Homo sapiens: one gene and its partner. The protein of the gene in region 2 binds, or shares a complex with, the protein of the main gene of each other region. Each region holds a gene or a part of one and is shown on either strand. Other genes may lie near its edges. The genes, in order: RAB8A and RAB3IP. A codon is read from its position in the direction of its gene.

Region 1 (12,478 bases), on a different chromosome or scaffold from region 2:
CACACCTGTAATCCCAGCACTTTGGGAGGCCGAAGTGGGCAGATCACCTGAGCTCAGGAGTTCGAGACCAGCCTGGCCAATGTGGTGAAATCCCATCTCTACTAAAAATACAAAAATTAGCCAGATGTGGTGGTGGGCCCCTGTAATCCCAGCTACTTAGGAGGCTGAGACAGGAGAATCACTGGAACCCGGGAGGCAGAGGTTGCAGTGAGCTGAGATCGTGCCACTGCACTCCGGCCTAGGCAACAAAGAGTGAAACTCCATCTCAAAAAAAAAAATAATAATGGTATAGGGCCAGGCATGGTGGCTCATACCTGTGATCCCAGCTTTTTGGGAGGTGGAGGCTGGAGGATCTCTTGAGCCCAGGAGTTTGAGACCAGCCTGGGCAACATAGGGAGACCCCATTTCTACAAAAAATAAAAAAATTAGCCTGCCATAGTAGCGTGCAGATGTAGTCCCAGCTACTTGGGAGGCTGAGGTGGGAGGATGGCTTGAGCCCAGGAATTCCAGACCAGCCTGGGTAACATAGCAAGACCCCATCTCTACAAAAAATAAAAATTAGCCATGCGTGGTGGTGCATGCCAGTAGTTCCAGCTACTCTGGAGGCTGAGGTGGGAGAATCACTGGAGCCTGGGAGGCGGAGGTTGCAGTGAGTGAAATCACACCATTGCTCTCCAGCCTGGGCCACAGAACAAGACCCTGTCTCAAAAATAAGTAAATAAATGAGGATAATACCAAGAAAAAAGAATATTCAGAGGTGATCAAGACTATCAAATACCACAGAGGCTGAGGCCTGTAGGTGGTCAATGCCTCTGGTTGAAGCTTTTTTAACCAGAGCTAGATTAGCAGAAGAATGAGCTGAAGTGGAAGGGAGGAGGAAAGGCTGGGCCCTCCTTCCACAGATCCTTAAGTAAGCCTCAAGGCCCCGGAGGCCCCAGAGTGACCTAGAACAGACTGGACCATCTCTAAGAAGCAGGGAGCCCTAGTGATCAAACTGCGGCCTGGGAAGCTTGGCACTCTGAGTTCAGATACCAAATTCCCACTTTTAAGCAGGAAGGGGGAAAAGTCACTTAACCTCCTCTGGCTTCAGTTTTCTCACCATTAAACAGGAAAAAAACAATAACATCGTTTTGCTGGGCTGGTACTGGGATTAAAATTTTAAGAGTCAGGGGCCGGGTGCAGGGGCTCACGCCTGTAATCCCAGTACTTTGGGAGGTGGAGGCAGGCGGATCACGAGGTCAGGAGTTCGAGACCAGCCTGGCCAACACAGTGAAACCCCATCTCTACTAAAAATACAAAAAAATACACCACACCAGGCGTGGTGGTGGGTGCCTGGAATCCAAGCTACTTGGGAGGCTGAGGCAGGAGAATCGCCTGAACCCGGGAGGCAGAGGTTGCAGTGAGCCAAGATCGCGCCATTGCACTCCAGCCCTGGTGACCGTGAGAGACTCCATCTCAGAAAAAAAAAAAAGTCAGGGTCTTGCTCCGTCGCCCAGGCTGGAGTGCAATGGTGCGATCACAGCTCACTGCTGCCTTGACCTCCTGGGCTCAAGGGATCCTCCCACCTTAGCCTCCTGAGTAGCTGGGACTACAAGCATACACCACCATACCTGGCTAATTTTTTAAAAAAATTTTTTGTTTTTTGAGATGGAGCCTTGCTCTGTCACCCAGGCTGGAATGCAGTGACACAATCTCGGCTCACTGCAACCTCCGCCTCCCAGATTCAAGCAATTCTGGTGCCTCAGCCGCCTGAGTAGCTGGGACTACAGGCGCACATGACCACACCTGCCTAGTTTCTGTATTTTTAGCAGAGATGGTGTTTTACCATGTTGGCCAGGCTGGTCTGGAACTCCTGACCTCAGGTGATCCACCTGCCTTGGCCTCCCAAAGTGCTGGGATTACAGGTGTGAACCACCTCGCCTGGCCAAAAAACTTTTTTTTTTTTGCAGAGATGGAGGTCTTGCTATGTTGCCCAGGCTGGTCTCCACCTCCTGGCCTCCAATGAACCTCCACCTCAGCCTCCCAAAGTGCTGGGATTACAAGCGTGCACCATGACGCCCAGCTAATTTTATTTGTTGTAGAGATGGGGATCTCCCTATCTTGTCCGGGCTGGTCTTGACCTCCTAAGCTCAAGCAATCCTCCTGCCTCCCAAAGTGCTGACTCCCAAAGTGCTGGGATTACAGGCCTGAGCCACCACACCCAGCTGCAAGCCCGATTTTCCAAATGTATCTCTCCTCTGTTTTTCTCTTTCTTTTTTTTTTTTTTTTTTTTTTTGAGACGTAGTCTCATTCTGTCGCCCAGACTGGAGTGCAGTGGCGCGATCTCGGTTCACTGCAGGCTCCGCCTCCCGGGTTCACACCATTCTCCTGCCTCAGCCTCCCGAGTAGCTGGGACTACAGGCGCCCGCCACTACTCCCGGGTAATTTTTTGTGTTTTTAGTAGAGACGGGGTTTCACCGCGTTAGCCAGGATGGTCTCGATCTCCTGACCTCCTGATCCGCCCGCCTCGGCCTCCCAAAGTGCGGGATTACAGGCCTGAGCCACCGCGCCCAGCCTTTTTTTCTTTTGATAGGGTCTTGCTCTGTCGCCCAGGCCGAATTGCAGTGGGGCGATCACGGCTTACTGCACCCTCAACCTCCTGGCTTCCCAAAGCACTGGGATCACAGACGGGAGCCAACGCCCCGGCCAGTTTTTTCAACGTTGAGAGCCCTGGCCCCTAGATAGGACCCAGCATCCTCACTGCTCTAACCCCTCCCCCCCCACCATCCCCGGGCTGGCCCGGACAACCCCTAAGGTGGCCGAGGGCGGGCCCTGAGGAGGCCGGCGCGCGCTTCCGGGCACAGCTTGTGGCGGTGAAGCCGCTCAGATGGCGGAGGCCTTGGGTATCTCTAAGCAGATCGCTAGGCCGCAGACCTCGGAGCTCGTCTTGGGTCACTTTTATTTATTTTTTTTGAGACGGAGTCTCTCTCTGTCGCCCACGCTGCAGTGCAATGGCGCGATCTCGGCTCACTGCAAGCTCCGCCTCCCAGATTCAAGCAATTCTCTGCCTCAGCCTCCCGAGTGGCTGGGATTACAGGCGCCCGCCACCACGCCCGGCTAATTTTTGTATTTTTAGTAGAAACGGGGTTTCACCATCTTGGCCAGGCTGGTCTTGAACTCCTGACCTCGTGATCCACGCGCCTCGGCTTCCCAAAGTGTGGGAATTAAAGGCGTGAACCACCGCGTCCGGCTTGGGTCACTTTTCGAGTATACAGCTCCTCCTCTCTCCTTCCTCCCTAGGCCCCCACTGCCCCGACTCGCAGGCCGCAGACAAGGCTGAGAGCGCTACCTTGCTTTCCCGCGCTCGCCTCGGTGCCTACTGCGCCTGCGCGAGCTGTGAGGGCGGGACCCAGAGACACCCGCCCCAACTACTGGCGTGCGCCCTCTGCTGTCGCCTAACGGAACTCCGGGCGCGCGTGCGCACGCACCCCAAGCCACGCCCCGCCAGGCTGCCGGCGCGCGAGCGGTTGGCGCCGCTCCCTGCCTTCCCTCTCCTACAGTGGGGCGGGGCCGGGCCGCCCGAGTCGGGGGTGGAAGGCGGGGGCCACATAATGCCACGCCCCCGCCTCGTCCCCATTTGAAGCCCCGCGACTCTTCACTGCTGGTCAATCAGAGCCCGTGCTCTCCCTAGTGCCGGCCAATGGGAGGTGCGCTCGGGCTGCTTCCGGCTCCGCGCTCCGCTCGCCCCCTCCCAAGGTCTCCCCGCGACTGGCGGGACGCAGGGGCGGGCGTCGGCCGCGGTGACGCGCAGCGGGCCTGGAGCCAATAAGGGGCGGGCTCGGTGCTGATGGACGGTGCTGGTGGCCAGTGGAGAGGCGCTGGCCGCACTTCCCGTCGGGGAGAGAGTGTAATATGGCGAAGACCTACGATTACCTGTTCAAGCTGCTGCTGATCGGGGACTCGGGGGTGGGGAAGACCTGTGTCCTGTTCCGCTTCTCCGAGGACGCCTTCAACTCCACTTTTATCTCCACCATAGGTAACGGGACCGGGGAATGGCTGGGGGCGCCGGAGGCCCGGGCTGGGCGCGCCCCTGAGGGGCTGGGGCTGAGGGATCTACAGGGCTGGACGGGCCGAGGGCGCTGAGAGGGTCGAGGGGGCCTAAAGGGAGAAGAGCAGTCGCCTGCACCGCCGTTCGGGGGTTCCTGGGCCGTGGTGGGGGAGACCAGGTGCCCATTTTGCAGATAGGGAGACTGAGGCTCCGACCCTCAGCCCGCTCGTTAGGGCGTGTTATGTCTTGGGCTGGGGTCTTCGCGCCCGTCCTCTCGATCTGTCCTAGCAGCAGCCCTCGAAGCGGTTCTTTTGAGGCTCTTGCCTTACAGAAGTGGAAACTGAGTCATGGGGAATTGGCCATGGGAAAAAGACAGTGGCATCTCACCTTAATGAGCATTTACTATGTGCCAAGTGCTTCACGTGCATTTTCACACTCTTCAGTTCTTGGTGTTAAGTGCTGTTATGAGCCCGTCTGACAAGATGAGGAATCTGAGGCTCAGGGAGGGCATGGAACTTGCCCAAGGCCACACAGTCTGCACGTGGTGAGAATGGGATTTGATGGAATTTGAACCTGGCTGTGTCTCAACCCAAAACTCGAGGCTTAGCTCTCCTAGAGAGATGCCACTGCACACTCCCAGCTGATGACAAGCTCAGCTAATGCACCTTGGAGCCGGGACTCTAACCCACACCATTCCTGCTCTTTTCTCTGGAGCGTTCAGAGGTTGAGCCCCTCTCCCTGACCATGCTTCCCCTCATAAGCGTATTTTCCTCTAGAAGGAATGATAAGAAGAGTCAGGACCTTTTCCCTGCCCACCTTTCATCCTGCTCCAGGAATGACAGCAATGGCAAGTGACAGCACTGCCTGCCCTGGGACCTGTCATCCCCAAGAAGATGCAAGATAAAAGCCTCAGCGAGAAACTAAATCAGCCACTGCCACAGACAGCCTTGACTTCCCTATCAAAGGGCCCAAGACTCCAGCTGTCACTTTAGAACAGCTTTTCCTGTAGGGCCAGCCCACATTGTGGTTGAACAGAATTGGCTTGGTGCATCTCAGTTGTGATGTCCACAGAAGTGGAGCTGACCTCTCTCAGTGCCACAAAAGCAGTCCTGGCCCACAATGAAAAGGTTTGACCCAGGAGTAACACCTATTTGAGTGGCTTGTGAGCTCTGTAGCCCTGCTAGGGATGGGGAAAGTGGGGGAACGGTCACTAAGTCCAGGAGTTTATTCCGACTCAAGAAAACCTAGGGAATGGCCTTTGCTTTACTGTGTCACTTTGACAGAATCGTGTTATCTCCCTGAACCCCAAGATAATGTGCTAATTCCATTCTTGCCCTCCTCCAGGAGCTATGCTTTATTTATTTTATTTTATTTTATTTTTTGAGACGGAGTCTAGCTCTTTTGCCCAGGCTGGAATCCAGCGGCAGGATCTCGGGTCACTACAACCTCTGCCTCCCGGGTTCAAGCAATTCTCCTGCCTCAGCCTCCCTAGTAGCTGGGATTATAGGCACCCGCCACCACGTCCAGCTAATTTTTGTATTTTTAGTAAATACAGGGTTTCACTGTGTTGGTCAGGCTGGTCTCGAACTCCTGACCTTGTGATCTGCCTGCCTTGGCATCCCAAAGTGCTGGGATTACAAGCATGAGCCACCGCACCCAGCGGAGCTGTGCTTTATAAAACAGTTATATGCCAGATGTAAAATAGAGAGAATTGACTGGAAATCATTACGTCTGGTTTCCAGTTGCTGTTTGCCCTTGAATGTGCACTACCCCTCTCTGAGCCCTGCTGTCTTTAGAGCAGGAGTGACACTGTCTGCCCAGCCTAGTGCCCTGGTGGTTGAGGATTAGAATTAGACAATAAGGGGTTGTCACCACAACCAGAGGCTATCTAGAGGAAGCAAATGAATGGCTCCTGCAGTGACAGCATCCAGCCTCTGAAGACAGATGTTTCTGAATTCTTCCCCCTCCCCCACTCCAAGGCTAAACTTTAGGGTAATTCTTGTGCTCCAACCAATCAAGAAGTGGCGTTAATTCAGCCTGGGCAACATGGCAAACCCCATCTCTACAAAAAATAAAATAAAATCAGCCGGGCACAGTGGCTCACCCATGTAGACCCAGCCACTTGGGAGGCCAAGGTGGGAGGATCGATTGAGCCCAGGAGGTCAAGGTGCAGTGAGCTGTGATGGTGTCACTGCACTCCAGCCTGGGCAACAGAGCGAGACCCTGTCTTAAAAAATAATAATAAAAATAAAAGAAAGAAAGAAATGATGTTAACTGTGAGCAGACTGGCTTGCATTCACTCAGATCCCAGTTTCCCAGCCTTCCCCACAAACCCCCCTCTTTTTTTTTTTTTTTTTTTGAGACAGTCTCTCTTTGTCACCCAGTCTGGAGTGCAGTGGCGCGATCTCGGCTCACTGCAACTTCCACCTCCCAGGTTCCAGCGATTCTCCTGTCTCAGCCTCCCAAGTAGCTGGGATTACAAGCACCTGCCACCATGCCCAGCTAATTTTTGTATTTTTTTTTTTTTTTTTTTAGTAGAGATGGGGTTTCACCATGTTGGCCAGGCTGGTCTCGAACTCCTGACCTCGTGACCGCCCACCTTGGCCTCCCAAAGTGCTGGGATTACAAGCATGAGCCACCGCGCCCAGCCCAACCCCCCTCTTTAGAGTTACTTTGAGCTTTAAAGAGGCTTTCTTCCATTTGCAGATGAGGATGTGACTTGGTGAAAGTTACCTAGCAAGGTGGAGGTGGCACCTGACCCTAAGATCCCTCCCTCCCACCCCTTCATTCCCCTCCTTCCATTTGTAGCCTTCTGTCTTCTAGGAAAGTCTAATTCACCATGACCTTGAAGGTCAGACCTCATAATTCTTAGGCCTCATAAAGTTTACACTTCCTAATTAAATTTGGCATGTTAATAAAACCCAGAGGAGTGTAGGGCGGAGTGCTGCTGTGGAGCTTGGCCAACCTAACAGTGCTCCTCGATTTTTTGTGTCCCTGTACACGTGTGACAGGAAATGGGGAATGTTTTAGGAAGCCCAGGCACACTGGGCTGTCTAGTCCTGAAGCAGTATCACCTTAATGCTTAAAGGTGATTCCATAAATTAGCCATACGTGGTGGCGCTTGCCTGTATTCCCAGCTACTCAGGAGGCTGAGGCAGGAGAATCGCTTGAATCCAGGAGGCAGAGGTTGCAGTGAGCCAAGATTGTGCCAGTGCACTCCAGCCTGGGCAACAGAGCAAAACTCTGTCTCCAAAAAAAAAAAGAAGCAATTCTATATTGGCTGAGTGTACCTCTGGGTTTTCTTTATAGACAAGGATTGAGTGGCTATTCATTTTCTGCCACTCAATCCTTAACATTTTGCCAAAAGTTACATTTCATCAAAGCCTATTCTCAGAAGCCCCATAGATCATTTGTGGTGTGAACTTGGCCCTGTAGCTCCCTGGAATGGGTTCTCACCAGCCTGGCTCGGCGCCACTGCCTCCTCAGGGGCCCATTGATTCCTCCAGTGAAAGGGTTGGCATTTGAGAAAGTGCTTTGTGAACCGCTCAACACCGCGTAGACCCTGTTGCGCTTTAATACTTTGATCCAGCCATATTTTGCCAGTGTCTTCTGTGGGCCAGGCAGCCATTTTGGCAAGAGGGCTGCAGAAAGGACACAGGTGAGTCAAGGTGCGTGCAGGACTGGGGTACCAGCTTCTAGCAAATGTGTATTCAACCCCTGTGTGTTCAGTCACTGGAGGTAATAGCAGTGGATGAGACTTGTCAGTTCCCTGCCCCAGGGAGCTTACGTTTGAGAGGGCGAAAGTCCAGTGCTGGGGCTGGATGGATGGAATTAGCATCCCCACCCTGGGTTCAGAGAGGCCCAGCCAGGCCTGGGCCTCAAGTCTTCCCCAGCAGGCACTTGAACAAACTCCTGGTGGCAAAGGCTGGGTCTGGCTGTTTCTCATCTACATGGGCCATTATGATCTGCAAGCATTATGCCCAGGTCCATGCAGCAGATACATACATGTATGTCAGTTATGTTAATAAATAGGTAAAGGGAGAACTGATGAGGATGGTCAGAAAGGTTCCCCTGAGGAGGGAACTTGAATGGGAACCTGAACAAAGGGATAGCCAGGTAGCTACAGAAGAAAGAACTTTCCAGGGCAGGGAAGAGCAAACATCAAAGCCCCGAGTCAGGAGCATGCTTGGAATGTTGAGGAAATCGCTGTGTGGATGGTGTGGCCAGAGAGAGCAGGTCATGAGCCAGAGTGCTGAGAGGTGACCAGGTTAGGCAGGACCTTGACACACATGAGCAGCTGTTTCCACTTTATTCGAGGGAAGTGGGGCAGGGAAGCCACTGAAAGAGGCTTTAAAAAAAAATAGCTTTATGAGATAGAATTCGCATACAGTTCACCCATTTGCAGTGTACAATTCAGTGGCTTTGGGTACATTCACAGAGTTCCACAACCATCACCACAGGCAATTTGGGAACATTTTTATTATGCCAAAAAGACACCAACCCAAGGCCAGGCACGCACGGTGGCACAGTGGCTCACGCCTGTAATCCCAGTACTTTGGGAGGCTGAGGTGGGCAGATCACGAGGTCAAGAGATCGAGAACAGCCTGGCCAACATGGTGAAACCCTGTCTCTACTAAAAATAGAAAAATTAGCTGGGCATGGTGGCGCGTGCCGGCAGTCCCAGCTACTTGGGAGGCTGTGGCAGGAGAATCACTTGAACCCGGGAGGCAGAGGTTGCAGTGAGCCAAGATTGCACCACTGCACTCCAGGCTAGCCAAGATCGCACCACTGCACTCCAGGCTAGCCAAGATCGCACCACTGCACTCCAGCCTGGTGACAGAGAAACTCCATCTCAAAAAAAAAAAAAAAAAGGATACCAACCCTTCCAGTTTCCCCATGTGCCCCCCCAGCCCCAGACAACTGCTAATCAGCTTTCTGTTTCTATGAATGAGCCTATGCTGGACATGTCTGTTAATGGAATCTCACACTAAGTGACCTTTAGTGTCTGGCTTCTCTCAGCATCCTGTCTTCAAGGTTCATCCACATTGTATAGCATGGATGAGTACTCCGTTCCTTTTTATGACTGGGTCATATTCTGTTGTATGGTTGGACCACATTTTGTTCATCCATTCATCTGTTGGTGGACATACTAGAAAGTTTGGAGCAGAGGGCCGGGTGCGGTGGCTGATGCCTATAATCCCAGCACTTTGGGAGGCTGAGGCAGGCAGATCATTTGAGGTCAGGAGTTTGAGACCAGCCTGGCCAACACGGTGAAACCCCATCTCTACTAAAAACTCAAAAATTGGCCGGGCATTGTGGCAGGCACCTGTGGTCCCAGCTACTCGGGAGGCTGAGGCAGGAGAATCACTTGAACCTGGGAGACAGAGGCTGCAGTGAGCCAAGATTGTGCCACTGCACTCCAGCCTGGGCGACAGAGCGAGACTCCATCTCAAAAAAAAAAAAAGAAAGTAAGTTTGGAGCAGAGGTTAGCTGTGTAACATGGTTAGGGTTATATTTTTGAAGGCTGGGGAGGGGACTGCGGGTGAACAGTGGGAGCCTGGGGAACATCAAGGTGGCTGCGAGGTCACCGTGGGGAAAGGGGATGAAAGCGGGAGGTGAGAGACAAGGAAGATGGGGTCAGGAAGGCTTGTTAGGAGGTGATCTTCAAGGGGGCCTTAAAGGAGGAGAAGTGTGCCTAGCTGACGGGCCAGTGGGACACAGACCACCCGCAGAAAATGAATAGCATGTACAAAAGCTGGGGGCAGGAGAGAACGTGACCATGTGCATTGACGCATGGTGGGGCCTAAGGCCCTGTGTGCCTGGGGGTTGGTCAGCTGCAGGGTGTTGGGGAGCAAGGGACTCAGGCCTGCAGAGGGCTCTGTTGAGACCCACTCCGTACAACTGCCTGGGGTGGGGAGGCGGGTTCAGCTGGCAGCAAGGGACAAGAGCAGGGCTTTGCCACCCGCGCCCCCTGGGTTTGCTCTGCACTGCTCCCATCAGCTCTTGGAGAGGGAAAATATCTCCAAGTGTTTCCAGATCTGGATATTCCGACATCCTGCATGCCCAGCACCAGGCAGGGTCTCCGTAAGCCACAACAGCTGTCACCTGCACAGGTTGGTGGCGCCCAGCTCAGACACAACTTGGGAAATGGGCTGACAGTGACGTGCCTTTTTTCTTTTTTCTTTCAGGAATTGACTTTAAAATTAGGACCATAGAGCTCGATGGCAAGAGAATTAAACTGCAGATATGGTAAGAGTCATTGTTCTCTGTCATTCTCTCCACCTGGCAATGGCTTCAAGCCAGAAGCCCTTGGCCTTCTCCCTCCACCGTCCCTGTGACCTTGGCCTCCATTTCTTGGTGCCCAGTCCTGGCACATGGGGCTTTCTCCAGAAGCTCCTGGAGGTTTATACCCAGCCCAGAGAGCTGTCCTCTGCTGGCTGCAGGGCACCAGGGCCTACAGCATCATAGGCACAAAGCTGCCCAGCCCTGGCTAGCTCAGTGTTCCACAGTGGGCACCATCTGGGTCTGGCCTTCAGAGTGGGCTGCTTCTGTTGAACGGGAAGAGAGCCCTCTCAGTGCCAGGTGCTGGTGACGCCTGCAGGGACTGTGAGATGCCCCAGCCGAGAGTTTCCTTTTGAGCCTCTCAACCCACTCAGAAGCATAAAGGTCCAACTTCACTTCCTCTTTTCTCCCCTGGGGCAGGCCTGGCCTCCCTTCCTAGCGTACAGACCGAAACCCCAAACCGAAATTAAGCGGAGGGCCGGGCCCCATGTTGAGACCTGTTTCCATTCCTGAGAACTAAGGGTGACTTCCCATGCACATACAATTAGGGAAGTGGGGAGACTCCAAGTCGCCATCGCTGGCCTGATTCTAGTTTGCTGAGACTGAGTTCAGGTGGCGGGTATAGTGGGGTCCTGCCCTGCACACATGCCACTCGCACAGAGTCACTGGCCCTGAGCAAAACAAAGAGAAGTCACATTTAAGAGCATGGTGCAATTTCCCTGTCACCCAAACCAGGCAAGTGCCTTTGAGTGGGAGCAGTGTGCCAGGAGATGGGCCACGAAGTCATCCTCCCTCAAGTCTCAAAGTTTGACCGGTCACCCCCACTTGCCAGTTTCAGGGAGCCCCACAGCTACCCTTGACTCCAGGTGCTATTCACCTCTTCTTTTTTTTTCTTCTTTTTTTGAGACGGAGTTTCGCTCTTGTCGCCTAGGCTGGAGTGCAATGGCGCGATCTTGTCTCACCGCAACCTCTGCCCCCCGGGTTCAAGTGATTCTCCTGCCTCAGCCTCCCAAGTAGCTGGTATTACAGGCATGCACCACCACGCCCAACTAATTTTGTATTTTTAGTAGAGACGGGGTTTCTCCATGTTGGTCAGGCTGGTCTCCAACTCCCGACCTCAGGTGACCCACCCACCTCGGCCTCCCAAAGTGCTGGGATTATAGGCGTGAGCCACCACGCCCGGCCCTACTGTTCACCTCTTAATCTGACTTTGGGAGTCGGGTAGGTTTAACTTGCAGTTCATCCTGCAGACATTGGTAGTAAGTCAAGCTCTGGCTGCCTTGTAAGTTCCAAGCCATGGAAGTTTCTCCACTTCCAGCACGTTGGTGCCATGTCACCCTTTGTTCCCAAGTCCAAAGTGACACTGCATCAGCAAGCAGAAGTTTCACTTTCCTCCTGCCTTCCTGCTTCTGCTCTTAGCAATCGTGGTGAGGTTAGTGACTCAAAACTCTTCTAAGGACTGTAGTTGAAAAAAAAATGACTGGTTTTTTTTTTTGTTTCTTTGTTTTTTTGAGACAGAGTTTTGCTCTTGTTGCCCAGGCTGGAGTGCAGTGGCACGATTTTGGCTCACTGCAACCTCCGCCTCCTGGGTTCAGGCAATTCTTCTGCCTCGGCCTCCCAAGTAGCTGGGATTACAGGTGCCTGCCACCACGCTCGGCTAATTTTGTATTTTTAGTAGAGACGGGGTTTCGCCATGTTGGCCAGGTTGGCTTCGAACCCCTGAATTCAGGTGATCCACCCGCCTCGGCCTCCCAAAGTGCTGGAATTACAGGCGTGAGCCACCGCACCTGGCAAAAATGACTGTTTTTAACCACTCATGTCTCCTGCTGCTGGTGTCAGAAAGTCAGCTTAGCTCCAAGCAAGGTGTTTCTGCACAATCCAGACGTATAGAGCCCTCCGGGTCCCAGCAGGGCCGTGGGAGGAACCCTGGGCTTGGAGACAAAAGACCTGAGTCTTGCCCTGGCTCTGTCACCAATCAGTTAGGTCACCTTTAATTTTTTTTTTTTTTTTTTTGACAAAGTCTCACTCTGTCACCCAGGCTGGAGTGCAGTGGCATGATCTCAGCTCACTGCAACCTCCACTTCCTTGGTTCAAGCAATTCTCGTGCTTCAGCTTCCCGAGTAGCTGGGATTACAGGCACCTGCCACCATGCCTGGCTAACTTTTGTAT
Region 2 (15,900 bases):
GCAAGGAAGATCAATGAGATCCAAGACAGAGTTGACAATCAACATAGAAGAAACTTCTAAAGCAATCCAGGAAATAAAAGAAGAAATAAACATATTCAAAAGAAATCAGAGGTTCTGCACCGGGCATGGTGGCTCATGCCTGTAATCCCAGCACTTTGGGAGGCCGAAGTGGGTGGATCACCTGAGGTCAGGAGTTCAAGACCAGCCTGGCCAACATGGTGAAACCCCATCTCAACTGAAAATACAAAAAAAAAATAGCTGGGCATGGTGGCAGGCGCCTGTAATCCCAGCTACTTCGGGAGACTGAGGCAGGAGAATCACTTGAACCTGGGAAGCGGAGGTTGCAGTGAGCCGAGATGGTGCCATTGCACTCCAGCCTGGGTGACAAGAGTGAAACTGTCTTAAAAAAAAAAAGAAAAGAAAAGAAAAAGAAATCAGAGTTTCTGGAACCAAAAAACTGACGTAAGGAATTTGAAAATACAATTGAAAGCTTTAGCAACAGATGGGACCGAACAGAAAAAAGAATTTCAGGGCTTGAAAAATGGTCTTTGGAATTAACCTGGTCAAACAAAAATAAAGAGAAAATAATTTTAAAAAATGAACAAAGTCGTTGAGAAATATGGGATTACATAAAAGAAACAAACCTATGAATTATTGGCATTCCTAAGAAGAAGAAAAAGTAAACAACCTGGAAAACATATTTGAGGGAGTAATTCAAGAAAATTTCCCTAACCTTGCTAGAAAGGTAAACACCCAGATACAAAAAATCTAGAGAACTGCAAGATACTATCCAAAATGAAGATCGTCACAGGACATAGTCACCAGACTGTCCAAGGTCAATGCAAAACACAACAAAACAAACAAAAATACTTAAAGGCTGAGAAAAAGGTTAGATTACATAATCACATACAAATGGAGCCATACCAGGCTTTGGACTTCTCAGCAGAAACCTTACAAGCCAGGATAGATTGGGGACCTATTTCCAGCATTCTGAAAGAAAAGAAATTCTAACCAAGAATTTCATATCCTGTCAAACTAAGCTTCATAAGCAAAGGAGAAATAAAATATTTTCCAGACAAGCAACTGCTAAGGGAATTCATTACCACTAGACTAGCCTTACAAGATACCCTTAAGAGAGTTCTAAACATAGAAACAAAAGAATGATACCTGCTACCACAAAAATTAGAGATCCTCTCTGCCACATGCCCAGGCAGATCTCCATGCATTCAAAGCACCTGCATGCTTCGTTCGGCAGCCTGAGTTGCCTCACTCCTCCTGTGCAGAGGCTTTGATATAGGCGGGTCCTCTCTGCTCCATGCTCAGGCAGACCTCCTGGTCACACTTAAGTACACAGGCCAATATCCCTGGTGAACACAGATTCAAAAATCCTCAACAAAATACTACCAAACTGATTCCAACAGCACATCAAAAAGTTAATTCATTATGATCAAGTAGGCTTTATTCCTGGGATGCAAGACTGGTTCAATATACACAAGTCAATAAATGTGATTCACAACATAAATAGAATTAAAAACAAAAGCCATACGATCATCTCAACAGAGGTGGAAAAAGCTTTCAATAAGATCCAACATCCTTTCACGATAAAAACGCTAAAGAAATTAGGCATCAAAGAAATGTACCTCAAAATAATAAGAGCCATCTATGACAAACCCACAGCCAACATCATACTGAATGGACAAAAATTGGAAGGCTTCCCCAAGAACTGGAACAAGACGACGATGCCCACTCTCACCATTCCTATTCAACATAGTACTGGAAGTGTTAGCCAGAGGAATCCAGCAAGAGAAAAAAGTAAAAGGCAACCAAACATGAAAAGAAAAAGTCAAATTACCTCTCCTACAGACTATATGATTTTATACCTGAAGAACCATAAAGACTCTTCCAAAAGGTTCCTGGAACTGATAAATGACTCCAGTAAAGTTTCCAGATACAAAGTCAATGTACAAAATTCAGCAGCATTTGTATACACCAATAACATTCAAGGTGAGAGCAAATCAAGAACACAATCTCATTTACAATAACCACACACACACACAAATACCTAGGAATACATCCAACCAAGGGGGTGAAAGATCTCTACAAAGAGAACTATAAAATACCGTTAAATCATAAATAACACAAAGAAATTTTAAAAATATTTCATGCTCATGGACTGGAAGAATCAACATTGTTAAAATGGCCATACTGCCCAAAGCAATCTACAGATTCAACGGTATTCCTATCAAACTACCAATGTTGTTTTTCACAGAACTAAAAAAAAAAAAAGTATTTAAAAACTCATATGGAACCACACAAGGGCCTGAATGGCCAAAGCAATCCTTTGAAAAAAGAAGTCAGAGGTACCATATTACTTGACTTCAATCTATTTTATAAGGTTACAGTAATCAAAACAGCATGGTGCTGGTACAAAAACAGACACATAGACTAATGGAACAAAATACAGAACCCAGAAATAAAGCCCTGGACCTACAGCCATCTGATCTTTGACAAAAATCAACAAAAATAAGCAATGAGGAAATGACTCCTTATTCAACAAATGGTGCTAGGATAGCTGGCTAGGCATATGCAGAAGAATGAAACTGGAATACCCATCCCCCTTCACCATATACAAAAATTAAGATAGATTAAAGATTTCAATGTAAGAAATCTTTGCCATAAGAATCCTAGAAAACAACCTAGGAATAAGCCATAAGAATCCATAAGCCATAAGAATCCTAGAAAAAAACCTAGGAAACACCATTCTGGACATCAGCCTTGGGAAAGAATTACCACCATTCAACTCAGCAATCCCATTACTGGGTATATATCCAAAAGAAAATAAACTGTTCTCCCAAAAAGACACATGCACTCACATGTTCATCCCAGCACTATGCACAATAGCAAAGACATGGAATCAACCTAGATGCTCATCAACAGTGGATCAGATAAAGAAAATGTAGTGCATATACACCAAGGAATATTATATAGCCATTAAAAAAGAACAAAATAAATTCCTCTGCAGCAACACTGATGCAGCTGGAGGCTATTATCCTAAGCAAATTAACATAGGAACAGAACACCAAGTATTGCATTTTTTTCACTTATAAGTGGGAGCTAAACATTGTACTCATGGACCTAAAGATGGGAAAAATAGAAACTGGGGACTACTAGACAGGGGAGGGGGACAAGGGCTGACAAACTAACAATTGGGTACTATGCTCAGTACCAGGGTGACAGGATTATTCATAACCTAAACCACAGAACTATACAATATATCCAGGTAATATACCTGCACATATACCCCCTAAATTTAAAATAAAAGTTGAAGAAAAAAAAATTTTAACAAGTGAGATCAAGATCCTGAAGCATTTTCAAAGAATTATAATAGGAGATGAAACATAACTTTTCCTGTATGATGCTGAAGACAAAGTACAATCAAAGCAATGGCTACCAAGAGGTGGAAGTGGTCCAGTCAAAGCAAAAGTGGACTGATCAAGAGCAAGGGTCATGGCAACAATTTTTTACATGCTCAAGGCATTTTGCTGGTTGATTTTCTGGAGGGCCAAAGAATGGTTAACAACTGCTTACTATCAGAGTGTTTTGAGAAAGTTAGTCACAGTTTTAGCAGAAAGATGCCCAAGAGAGCTTCACCAGAGTCGTTCTCCACCACAACAATGTTCCTGCTCATTCCTCTCATCAAGGGCAATTTTGTGAGAGTTTCCATGAAAAATCATTAGGCATACACCTTGCAATCCTTATTTGGCTCCTTCAGAATTCTTTGTTCACAATCTTAAAAAAATATTTAAAAAGCATCCATTTTTCTTCAGCTAATAATGTAAAAAAGACTGCATTGACATGGTTAAATTCCCAGCACCCTCAGTTCTTTAAGGATGAACTAAATGGCTGGTTATCATCCCTTATAAAAGTGTCTTCAACTTGACGGAGCTTATGTTGAGAAGCAAAATAAAATTTATAGTTTTATCTCATAAAAAAATATTTGTTAATGTTTACAAATGTCTTTGGCTACAGTTAGTAGAACCAATACTGAATAGGGTTAGTGCAAGTATGTGATTTTCAATGACTCTCTTTGCAAGCTATCCTACTGGGCTTTATTTTCTAAGTCATTTCATTTTCTTTTTCTTTTTCTCTTTTTCTCTTTTTTCTTTTTTTTTTTTTTTTTTTTTTTGAGACGGAGTCTCCCTCTGTTGCCTAGGCTGGAGTGCAGTGGCGCAATCTCAGCTCACTGCAAGCTCCACCTCCTGGGTTCACGCCAGTCTCCTGCCTCAGCCTCCCAAGCAGCTGGGACTACAGGCGTCTGCCACCACACCTGGCTAATTTTTTGTATTTTTAGTAGAGAAGCGGTTTCACCGTGTTAGCCAGGATGGTCTCGATCTCCTAACCTGGTGATCTGCCCGCCTCGGCCTCCCAAAGTGCTGGGACTACAGGCGTGAGCCACTTCGCCCAGCTCATTTTCTTTTAAGAAAAATAAAAGTTTAAAATAACCTCTTACAGCAGATTTCACCTTTTAGTGAATGTAAGAATCAACAAGTTTGATGAAAATGCATATTCCCAAACCTCAACACAATAATTTGATTTCAGCAGATCTGGAGTAGAGTGCAAGGATCTATACTTAATAAGAATGCACTAAAGCCCAATTTCCTCCTGAGAATTCCACTAAAAGCTGCTCTTCAGAAATATCCTATGGAAGGCCAAACAGCTAAATGACTACATCATAATCTCTGGCATCCCTGCACCTGAAAATAAGTGACCACATGATTGGTCCCCCTACACACACAGTATGGATTTGTTGCTGGGAAGTGGTTGTCCATCCAGGGATTACATTACCCAGCCCACCATACATCTAGGTATTGGCATGAAAGGTTCACACCAATAGAATGTGAGCAAAAGTGATGTGTATCATATCTAAGCCAAGGTTTTTTAGAAGAAGCTGTACCTTCTCTAAGCTGTCTTTCCCTTTTGTCTCATTGGTTAGATACAAATAACAATAAAACCCTAAGAAATTACAAAGGCCCCAAACAGAAGAGAAACAGATCTCTGAATTATTTCACAGAGAACTGCCTACCAACTATGAACATCTGCTTCAGAGTGTTAAATGAATAAAAATGAACTTCTATTAGGTAAAGTCACGAAAATTTGGGGGTTACTTATAAGCATCACCCTAATATATCAGGCATGTGTGTATACAAACACTTGTATAACCGCATATACATGTATATATTCATTTAATCAACAAAATGTATTGAAAACCCATTATATGCTCAAGATATAATCATGAGCACAAACATATGCAATCCTTATCCTCATGAATCTCAGAAGTACTGAAGCATGTGTGTATAAATGCAGGTTTTTCTATGTGGATTACTTGAATGGGGTAGACAATGAAGTAATATAAATGAGTAAGTAGAACTTTCACTTCCAATTAAGATAGAGGAACAGGGATTAGATTTACCACCCATCTGACACAACTAAAACTCTGAAAAAATATATGGATCAACAATTTGAAGCATTTGATATTAGGCAATAAAAGACAGTGATCCCCTAGAAATGAAAAACAAAATGTGCACCCCAGATCTGCCCCAGCTTATTATCTGAAGAGATGAAATAATTAGAAACAAAACATTTATTAAACTGCATCCCAACATATTAAGCAGAGCAAGCAAAGTATAAAAAAGATCCAAATCAAACTTTCAGAGATGAAAACTACAATGTCTAGTTTAAAAACATACTGTATGGGATTAACAGATTAGATATTTCAGAAGAAAAGAGTAGTGACTTTGAAGACATAGCAATAGAAACTACCCACAATGAAACACAGTGAGGAAAAAAAGATTTTTAAATGAAAGACTGTAACACCAGCAAGCTGTGAGATAAGTTTAAGCAGTCTAATGTACATGTAATAGGAATCCAGAGGAAAGGAGAGAGAGAGGAAGAATGGAAAACTTTTTGAAGATATAAAGGCCAAAATTTCCCAAATTTTATGAAAACTAACAACCTACAGCTTCAAGAAGCTCAATAAATCCCAAACATAAGAAAGCTGAAGAAACTACACCAAAGCAAATCACAATCACATTGCTTATGCCAGTGAGAGAGGACTCTCATAAGCAGCCAGAGAGAAAAGACCTAATACGCAGAGGAACAAAGGTAAGGGTAACAGCAGACTTCTTGTGAGAAACAATGTACATGCTTGAAAACACTGAAGCAACATCTTTACAGTAACAAAAAAAAAAAAATTATCAATCTTAAATTCTTTACTCAGTGAAAATATCTTTCAAAAACCAAAAATGAACACAGACATACAAAAGCTAAAAGAATTTATCACCATCAAACATGCACAACAAAAATGTAAAAGGATGTCCTTCAAGCCAAAGGAAAAATGATACGAGTTGGAAATCTGGATCCACATGAAGAAATGAATACCAAAGGAATGAACACACAGAGCAAGTCCCCAAACGGATCCTGAGCAAGAGGAGAGTTGGAGGCTCTCCCTCTCCCTCTCCCTCTCCCCACAGTCTCCCTCTCCCTCTCCCCACGGTCTCCCTCGCCCTCTCTTTCCACGGTCTCCCTCTGATGCCGAGCCAAAGCTGGACTGTACTGCTGCCATCTTGGCTCACTGCAACCTCCCTGCCTGATTCTCCTGCCTCAGCCTGCCGAGTGCCTGCTATTGCAGGCGCACGCCGCCACGCCTGACTGGTTTTCGTATTTTTTTGGTGGAGACGGGGTTTCGCTGTGTTGGCCGGGCTGGTCTCCAGCTCCTAACCGTGAGTGATCCGCCAGCCTCGGCCTCCCGAGGTGCCGGGATTGCAGACGGAGTCTCATTCACTCAGGGCTCAATGTTGCCCAGGCTGGAGTGCAGTGGCATGATCTCGGCTAGCTACAACCTCCACCTCCCAGCCGCCTGCCTTGGCCTCCCAAAGTGACGAGATTGCAGCCTCTGCCCGGCCGCCACCCCGTCTGGGAAGTGAGGAGCGTCTCTGCCCGGCCACCCATCGTCTGAGATGTGGGGAGCGCCTCTGTCCAGCCGCGACCCCGTCTGGGAGGTGAGGAGCGTCTCTGCCCGGCAGCCCCGTCTGAGAAGTGAGGAGCCCCTCCGCCCGGCAGCCGCCCCGTCCGGGAGGGAGGTGGGAGGTCAGCCCCCGCCCGGCCAGCCGCCCCATCCGGGAGGGAGGTGGGGGGTCAGCCCCCGCCCGGCAGCCGCCCCGTCCGGGAGGGAGGTGGGGGGTCAGCCCCTGCCCGGCCAGCCGCCCCGTCCGGGAGGTGGGGGTTCAGCCCCCGCCCAGCCAGCCGCCCCGTCCAGGAGGGAGGTGGGGGGCGCCTCCGCCCGGCCGCCGCCCCGTCCGGGAGGTCGGAGGCGCCTCTGCCCGGCCGCCCCTTCTGGGAAGTGAGGAGCTCCTCTGCCCGGCCACCACCCCGTCTGGGAGGTGTACCCAACAGCTCATTGAGAACGGGCCATGATGACGATGGCGGTTTTGTGGAATAGAAAAGGGGGAAAGGTGGGGAAAAGATAGAGAAATCAGATTGTTGCTGTGTCTGTGTAGAAAGAAGTAGACATAGGAGACTTCATTTTGTTCTGTACTAAGAAAAATTCTTCTGCCTTGGGATGCTGTTGATCTATGACCTTACCCCCAACCCTGTGCTCTCTGAAACATGTGCTGTGTCCACTCAGGGTTAAATGGATTAAGGGCGGTGCAAGATGTGCTTTGTTAAACAGATGCTTGAAGGCAGCACGCTCGTTAAGAGTCATCACCACTCCCTAATCTCAAGTACCCAGGGACACAAACACTGCGGAAGGCCGCAGGGTCCTCTGCCTAGGAAAACCAGAGACCTTTGTTCACTTGTTTATCTGCTGACCTTCCCTCCACTATTGTCCTATGACCCTGCCAAATCCCCCTCTGCGAGAAACACCCAAGAATGATCAATTAAAAAAAAAAAATCTTAGAAGTGACCAGAAGGAGGAAGAAAACCAATTATCTACAAAGGAATGACAACTACATTGACAGCTGGCTTCTCATCAACAATGATAGATGCCGGAAGACAAAGACGTAAAATTATGAAAGTGTTTGTTGAGAAAAAAAAAAACAACCATCAACCTAGAATTGTATGCCCCGTTAAACTATCATTCAAAAATAAAAGTAAAACTTGTAAAAAAAAAAAAAAAAAAAAAAAAAGGAATGAACACACAGATGCCCATGTAGCTAACATTTCTGATGTTTATCTATGTAAAGATTCTTTGTTATTATTTAAGTCTCTTTAAAAGATAATACTGTTTAATGCAAAACAATAGTGTTTTGTGGGGTTTAAACACACAAAGAAGTGAAACATACAACAATTATTGCACAAAAACTAGGAGGGGAAAAATAAAAGTATACTTTTGTAAGGTTTGTACACCAGATGTAAAGTAATATATCACCGGAAGGTAGAGAGTGATAAGTTAAATATGTCTACTATAAACGCTAAAGCAACAAAGATAAAAGCCACAGGAAGATGAAATTGTTTTAAAAATACAGAATTAATTCAAAAGAAAGGATACAAAAGGGAAAAAGGAACAAATGAGACAAACAGAAAACAAACAGTAAGATGGTAAATTTAAACCAAACTATACCATTATCCATTAAATGTAAATGGTCTAAACACCAATTAAAAGACAGAGATAATTACAAAGGATCAAAAGAACAAGACCTAACTGTACACTATCTATAAGAAACTCGTATTAAATAGGAAGACACAGTTAACCAAGTAAGTAAAAAGTATAGAAAATGGCCTCTCTTAAGATAAGACTAAAGAAAATGGCTGTTGACATAGTTTGATTCACAAGTTGTCACAATTCAGGAAGTATTTTTATATTCAAGAGTCCTTTTCAAGCCTTGAGATCTAAGTAAATATTAATACTAACTTATACTCTTCATAAAAGTCACCACATATGTGTTTACACATCACCATTTCAATTATCCAAACAGTATCTCTAAATACAGCATATTAGAGATTTCAAAGGAAATTCTCAAGTGAGCTAAGAAATTAGCAATCTGTTCTGATCAATAACCATGTGTTCTCAAAGATGGATACATATACTCAAAATTTTACCTCTATATAATGTGTGATTTTAATAAAATACTATCTATTAAGACAACAAAGTCTGAGCCAGATGACAGAAACAAAATGCAACCACATCTCACCACATCCTTTTCCTTTGGGAAGGAACTGGGGATTAAAAAAATGAATATACTACGCTCATGAGAGACAAGTATGCTAGGGAAAGAGTGGGAATACATTTGTGAAATGTCATGGTAGGTTGGATATTACACCTATAAATGTTTGCCCTACCTTCTCAATTTTCTACATGTGAATTGGTATTTCACCTAGGTTGTCAGGTTTATATATGCAGTTTTTCATATCATTCCATTATACTTTTGATATGAGTCTCCAGTGACATCCTGCATTTCACTCCTGCTACTGATAAATCTGTCTTCTTTTTGTCAGTCTTGCTAGAGGTTTGCAATTTTATTAATCTTCTTAAAGAACCAACATTTTGTCTCACTCATTTTCTCTATTTTTTCTGTTATCAATTTCATTGATTTTTGCTCTTTATTATTTCCTTCCTTCTACTTGCTCTGGTTTTATTTTGCTCTTCTTTTTACAGATTCTTAAAGTGGGAGCTTAGATTGTCCATTTGAGACTTTTCCTGTTTTCTGATGTATGCATTTCATTCTATAAATTTTCCTCTGAAATTTAACTGCAGACTCAGAAAAAGAATAAGATATGGCCACAAGTTTGGAAATAAATAGCAGAAACTTTTAAAATGACCAAATGGGAAACACAACAATTTACCAAGAAAATTCTCCAAGGTAAGATACAGAAAATATTCAAACTCAGCTTAAACTCAAAACAAAATGACTTAGACTGAGTGACTTCAAGTAAATAACCATTTAGTCAGCCATGTAGTAAGAAGGAAAAACCCTGCATGTGGAATATAGCCCACTCAATCTGCATTACAGATAATACGAGACAGGGAGCAGGCAATGCAGTGGGGCACAGAAGAGTTAACAGAGCCACATTTTTCCAGTTAGTAGTCTTAGAGGAACTTCTTTACTACCCAACCAGTTTCACGGATTCCTAAATGCTGCCTAACAGGAGCTGAGGCTGGGCATATGTGACGGATAAATGTACAACCATCATGATTTCATTTCTGCAGGTTGCCCCACCCCATGGAGAAATACTAATTTCTAATATAATATATGGAAGAATAAAATATCTTCTTTCTTACCCTCTGAGCTTTTGCGAGTTCTTCTTTTAATCGTTCATAGCCCTTTTCTCTAACTTCCAAAACAGATGGGCTTCGTAAACGAGACAGACTATCAGTACTCAACCCAAAAATATCATCACTGCCATCGCAAGCCTCTGTTATAGTAGCACCCTGTAAAAACTCTCTCTCTGCATTATAGTTGTCCTTTCTTGTAGTTAATTTAGTTAATCCAGCTGTGACTCCAGAGGTAGAGCAAGGGGCTGGGTCTGTAACATGAAAGCTGTAAAGGAGAGAGACATTTTTCAGAAAATATCAGCATATGCTCCAATAGAACTGGCTTAAACACACAGCTCTAGAACTGTACTACCCAATTTGGTAGCTTCTATATTTAAATAAATAGTATGTCCTCAGTCATATCAGCCACATTTCAAGTGCTCAATAGCTACATGTGGTTAATACCTATCATTCATATTAGATAGCACAGAAATAGAACATTTTCATCAACACAGAAAGTTCTACAGGACAGTGCTACTCAAGAGCAGGGGTTAACAAACTATAGCCTACAGGCTAAACCAAGCCTTCCACCCGTTTTTATAAGGTATCAATGAGCCAAGTATAGTTTTTACAATTTCAAATAGTTGAAAAGAAATCTTTAAAAGAATATTTTGTGACACATGAAAATTAAATGAAATTCAAAATTCTGCATCCATATATGAAGTTTTATTGGAACACAACCACTCTCATTCATTTACATACTGTCTATGGCTGCTTTCAAACTCTAAAGGCAGAGTTGAATAGTTGCAACAGAGACTGCATGGCTTGCAAAGCCTAAAATATTTACTATCTGGTCCTTCACATATAAAGTTTGTCAACCCTGTTCTAGAACATTATCAGGTCATGTATTTCTTTACCTAGGCACACTTAAGTTATTCAAATTTTCTAAAAATAGTAAAACTTAAAATATAGTAACTAAGCAAACTGTCCATTTTAAAAAAAATCAAATAAGTGATTTACTTATTTCCTACCTGATACTAGATATTTCCGCACAATTTAAACGTCTGGGGGATGAATACACGGGTTGTGTAGGAAGTTCAGAAACATCTAATGCATTTGCCTGGATAGGTACAGAGGATAAAGCTGAAGGGTGTGGCCGGTAGATGACACTTGGTGAGGTAGTCTGCTCTTGAGTTCCTGATTCATACACACCAAGAAGGTCCGGAGAAGTAGGTGAAGCAAGGTTTACTTCATGGAAGCCTTCCAAGGGATCATTAGCCATAGCAAAAGCCTCATCATAAGATAACCTATGTTAAAACAAAAAGCAGATACTTATTTTTAGATAATAACATTTAAAACTAAATTAAAATGCATAAATTATAAAATGTGTTTAACAGTCCATTGTAAATTATAAGCTTACAATAAAAGAGGCTTTTTTTAAAAAACCACAATCACATGGTGGTATATGCCTGTAGTACCAGCTACTCGGGAAGATGAGGTGGGAGGATTGCTTGAGCCCAAATGCAGGTTGCAGTGAGCCGTGATCACAACCCTGCACTCCAGCCTGGGTGACAGGGCAAGACCTTCTCCCACTCAAAAAACAAAAACAAAAACAAAACACCACAATCACTTAACATTTACTAAGCGATCTCACAGTATAACTACTACAAAAGGCAAACAATCTGATTTAGAAGAAACCTGAAAGTGATAAGCAATGCTGTTAAAGTGAGAATAATCAATTAGTATGAGGAATGAATAAAAATTGGCTTAATTTTTAAAAATATTTTAAAATTATTAAATGTTCATATTAAAATAAATTATCTCAGTATACTATTTAAATATGAAAATACTAAAAACAAAATCTAACAGTATTATGCAATCTTAGACTCAATAACAATTATATTATGCTGTGAAACTCTTAAAACAATTTTTTTAACAGAGAACATTGTATTTATCATGTACAACATGTTTGAAGGCACATACACATTGTGAAATAGCTAACTAGCTAATTAACGAATGCGTTACCTCATGCCATTATTTTGTTATGAGAAAACTCAACATTTACTCTCTGCATTTTTCAAGAATTTACAATATATCGTCAGGAACTACAGTCATCCTGCTGTACCATAGATCTCTTGAATTTATATTTAACTTTCTGATTATACATGACCTTGGTTAGAGTAAGTAGAAAGGCGGTAAAGACACACACATACTCTCTCATACCTGTCACCCAGATTATGAAATTGTTAATATTTTTGAGTCATTTAAGAATGTTTCAGACATGATGCCCACTTAATATCTCAATGTATACATATACACAGTGTGTGTGTGTGTGTGTGTGTGTGTGCCCGTGTATCTGTGTATGTGTGTGTGTATCCTAAGTACAAGGACATTCTATCTAACCACAAAATCATCATCAAAATCTGGAAGTTAACATTGATTAAAATTACCATCTAATCAACAGGCCCCATTCAAATTTCACTAATTGTTCCAATAATATCCTTTATATGTACAGGATCCAATCCTGGATAATGTGTTTCATTTCTATAAGCCTTAAATTTCTCCTCTGATGAGATTAGAATGGGGATAACACTAGCCCCTCCCTTGTCCTGGTTGCTGTGAGGATTGAAGGAGACAATCCATGTAAAGTATTTTGTAGAGTACTATGTACCTGACATAGAGTATGGCCTCAATAAACTTGAATTATCATAGCCCAGCCACTAACAATACCACATATGCTTCAGGTTCTCCATAAGCAAAAAACAGTTCATGTAACTATTCAATTATATCACAAAGTTTACATGGAAACTAACTTGAGTGTACCACTCAAGTTTTTCCTCTGAAGAATTCAAAGCTAAATGGCATCTTACAAATTCTTTATTGATTTTCCCTGTCTGCTGAATAGAGACCAAACTTCTTAGCCAAAAAAGTAAGGTCTTCTAGGATCTGAATCCAATCTCTCTTTCCAATTTTTTTCCTTCCTATGATAGTACTTTGACAGTTGTGAATAACATCTTCCCGGAACTTAGAAAATGCCAAACAGGTCAGGCTTGGTGGCTCATACCTATAATCCCAGCACTTTGGGAGGCCGAGGCGGGTGGATTACTTGAGATCAGAAGTTCGAGACCAGCCTGGCCAACATGGTGAAACCCTGTCTCTACTAAAAATACAAAAATTAGCTGGGCATGGTGGCCCATGCCTATAATCCCAGATCTCGGAAGGCTGAGGCAGGAGAATCATTTGAACCCAGGAGGTGGCAATGAGCTGAGACACTGCACTTCAGCCTGGGCGACAGATTGAGATTCCAACTCAAAAAATAAAAATAAAAAAAATGCCAAACCAAACAATATAGCACATCATTTCTTCCATAAGATACAGAAGTAGTCATTTGTTAAACTAGCTGAAAAATTTAACTCTCAAATCCTTAATAAAAAGTGTTAATACAAGTAGAGAATAAAAACAAAAAGATTTCAGCAAAGTTGAAAGAGATCTGACTCAGTATCATTTCAAAATTACAAATTAGTATGTGTCACAGACTTTCCAGCATATAGACAACCCAAAGTGCAACAATTAAATCTACAAATGACAAATTTCAAATCCAATCAGCTGTTTACTAATAGCAAATGATTTATTCTTCAAAATGAAACTAGTCCTTGCTTTTTTCACATAAAATATTCACTATGCCAAATGAAAGATGAGATTAATAAGGAATGTAAGGTGTTTAATACTCCATTAAAATTTATTATTTTTTCACCCAAAAGAATTTTCATTTTTTATTCATAATCCATATACCCACATATACCAAGAAAACTGCTATATTCAAAGTACATAATTCATTTTCACTTGAATATAGTTCAGGCAAGTACACTAACCAATTCATTAACATAAAAAACCTTTGTATTACGTTTGCATTAAATTTTGACATTTTAATCAGTAACTATTTATGATTCTTTCTTCTATCCCATATACTATGAATTCACCTCTTTATATCCTGAAGGTTCACTGAATCATAAAACGTAAAAGCATTTGCATTTCTGGAAATACAAAATAGTACAAATCCTATGGAGGAAAATTTAGCAATAACTTCAAAATGATATTAAACCTGTGACCCAGCATGCCACTCCTGGGGCTTTATCCTAAAGATAAACTGGCAACATGACAACAGCACTCTTCGTAATAGCAAAAAACTGATTCAATGAACCAGGGTACATCCTCATAATGAAGCACTGCACAGATGTAAAATACATATCCATGTATCGCTATGAAGTGACATCGAAGATATACCAGTAAGATAAAAAACAGGATAAATAACAGTAAACTACCTTTTATCTAAAAAAGGAGAATAAAAATAAATAAATATATATATATAATTTTTTTTTAATGGAAAGGCTAGGTTCAGTGGCTCACACTTGTAATCCCAAAAACTTGACACACAGAAGCAGGAGGACAATTGTGGCCAAGAGTTAAAAGACTAGCCTGGGCAACATAGTGAGATCTTGTCTCTACAAAAAGTTGTAAAATTAGCTGGGTGTGATAGTGCAGGCCTATAGTCCTAACCACTTGGGAGGCTAAGATGGGAGGATGGCTTGAGCTGAGGAATTTGAGGGTACAGTAAGCTTTGATTATACCACTGCACTCCAGCCTGGGTGAAAGAACGAGACCCTATCCTGAAAAAAAAAAAAAAAAGAACAAAAGAAAAAAAAGCAGGCAAAATGGTTACCTATAGAAGGAGAGATGACAGAGTGAAAAATATGAAAGCTAGACTTTTTTCTGTAAGTACCTTGCTTTACAGATTTGATTCTGAGCTTGGAACCATGTAAACAGTAAAAATTAAAGTTTAAAAAAGAATCCCTAAACATAAAGCAAATAAACTTGTGTACTGAGATGGTAGCTTAACCACACAGAAAAGAACTACTTCGAGTGATTTTAAAACATAACAACATAAATATATATCCCTAATGGAATGTATTCTAAAAGCAAAAGGAAGTGAAAAAAGTCACAACCTATTTTCAATGTTAATAACAGTAGTAATATTGATACTGTGATTCTGAAACTTTGTTATAAGATGAAGCAAATAAGTTATGCTAATGTCATTTGGAACTAAGATTTTCAGCATATTAGAAAAACTACAAATATAAAATCAAAGAATTTAAATCCTAGAGGCCTAAATTTTACTCAGAAACACCAGAAAAAAAATTCTAAGTTTATCCAATGAAAAGTTGGTCAGCATAGCAACGCTGACCAACTCAGGAGCCATGCGCACCCATGTACTCAGAGTAATACCATGTCCTCCAAAAAAAAGAACACAGGCTCCTTGGGAAAAATGGCTGATTCCAGCCTGGGACAGAAATGTACGAAAGGACCCTGGAACATCTTGTTATACCAGAAAGCAAGCACACCATCAAAAACTACTGGACTGATATCAAACGGACTCCCACTAACCAAAAACGGGACAATCTGAACATCAAAAAGGATAATATCTGCAAAGAACTGAAAGGCAAATATTTTTAAATCCATGAGGTCATAATGACACTAAAAATAAAGCAAAGTACCTCACTGGCCTTCTCTGATCAATGCTATGGAACCAATTCATTATTTTCAAAATTGGTAAATAAAATGAAAGAATGAAGTATTTTATCTGGCTTTCC

The links.
Region 1: the proteins of RAB3IP (region 2) and RAB8A are in contact, whole or in part, in a crystal structure (PDB 4LHX), measured with the Homo sapiens proteins. Residues at the interface, in NP_783322.1 of Homo sapiens: Ser199, Arg202, Asp203, Gly206, Leu209, Glu210, Thr213, Ala214, Phe217, Glu218, Ala220, His221, Val224, Asn228; in NP_005361.2 of Homo sapiens: Lys10 (codon at 3,919), Phe33 (codon at 3,988), Ser35 (codon at 3,994), Thr36 (codon at 3,997), Phe37 (codon at 4,000), Ile43, Asp44, Phe45, Lys46, Ile47, Trp62, Ile73, Ala76, Tyr77, Arg79, Gly80.

What each region holds. Positions count from the first base shown.
Region 1 is NC_000019.10:16,108,011-16,120,488, forward strand, and holds the start of RAB8A (ras-related protein Rab-8A), read left to right. Parts: upstream 1-3,878; 5' UTR 3,879-3,891; coding exon 3,892-4,015; intron 4,016-10,215; coding exon 10,216-10,276; intron 10,277-12,478. UniProt on the Homo sapiens protein: The small GTPases Rab are key regulators of intracellular membrane trafficking, from the formation of transport vesicles to their fusion with membranes.
Region 2 is NC_000012.12:69,751,043-69,766,942, reverse strand, and holds part of RAB3IP (rab-3A-interacting protein isoform alpha 1), read right to left. Parts: intron 11,560-15,900; coding exon of another isoform or gene 11,535-11,559; coding exon 11,284-11,534; intron 10,539-11,283; coding exon 10,280-10,538; intron 1-10,279. UniProt on the Homo sapiens protein: Guanine nucleotide exchange factor (GEF) which may activate RAB8A and RAB8B. Promotes the exchange of GDP to GTP, converting inactive GDP-bound Rab proteins into their active GTP-bound form.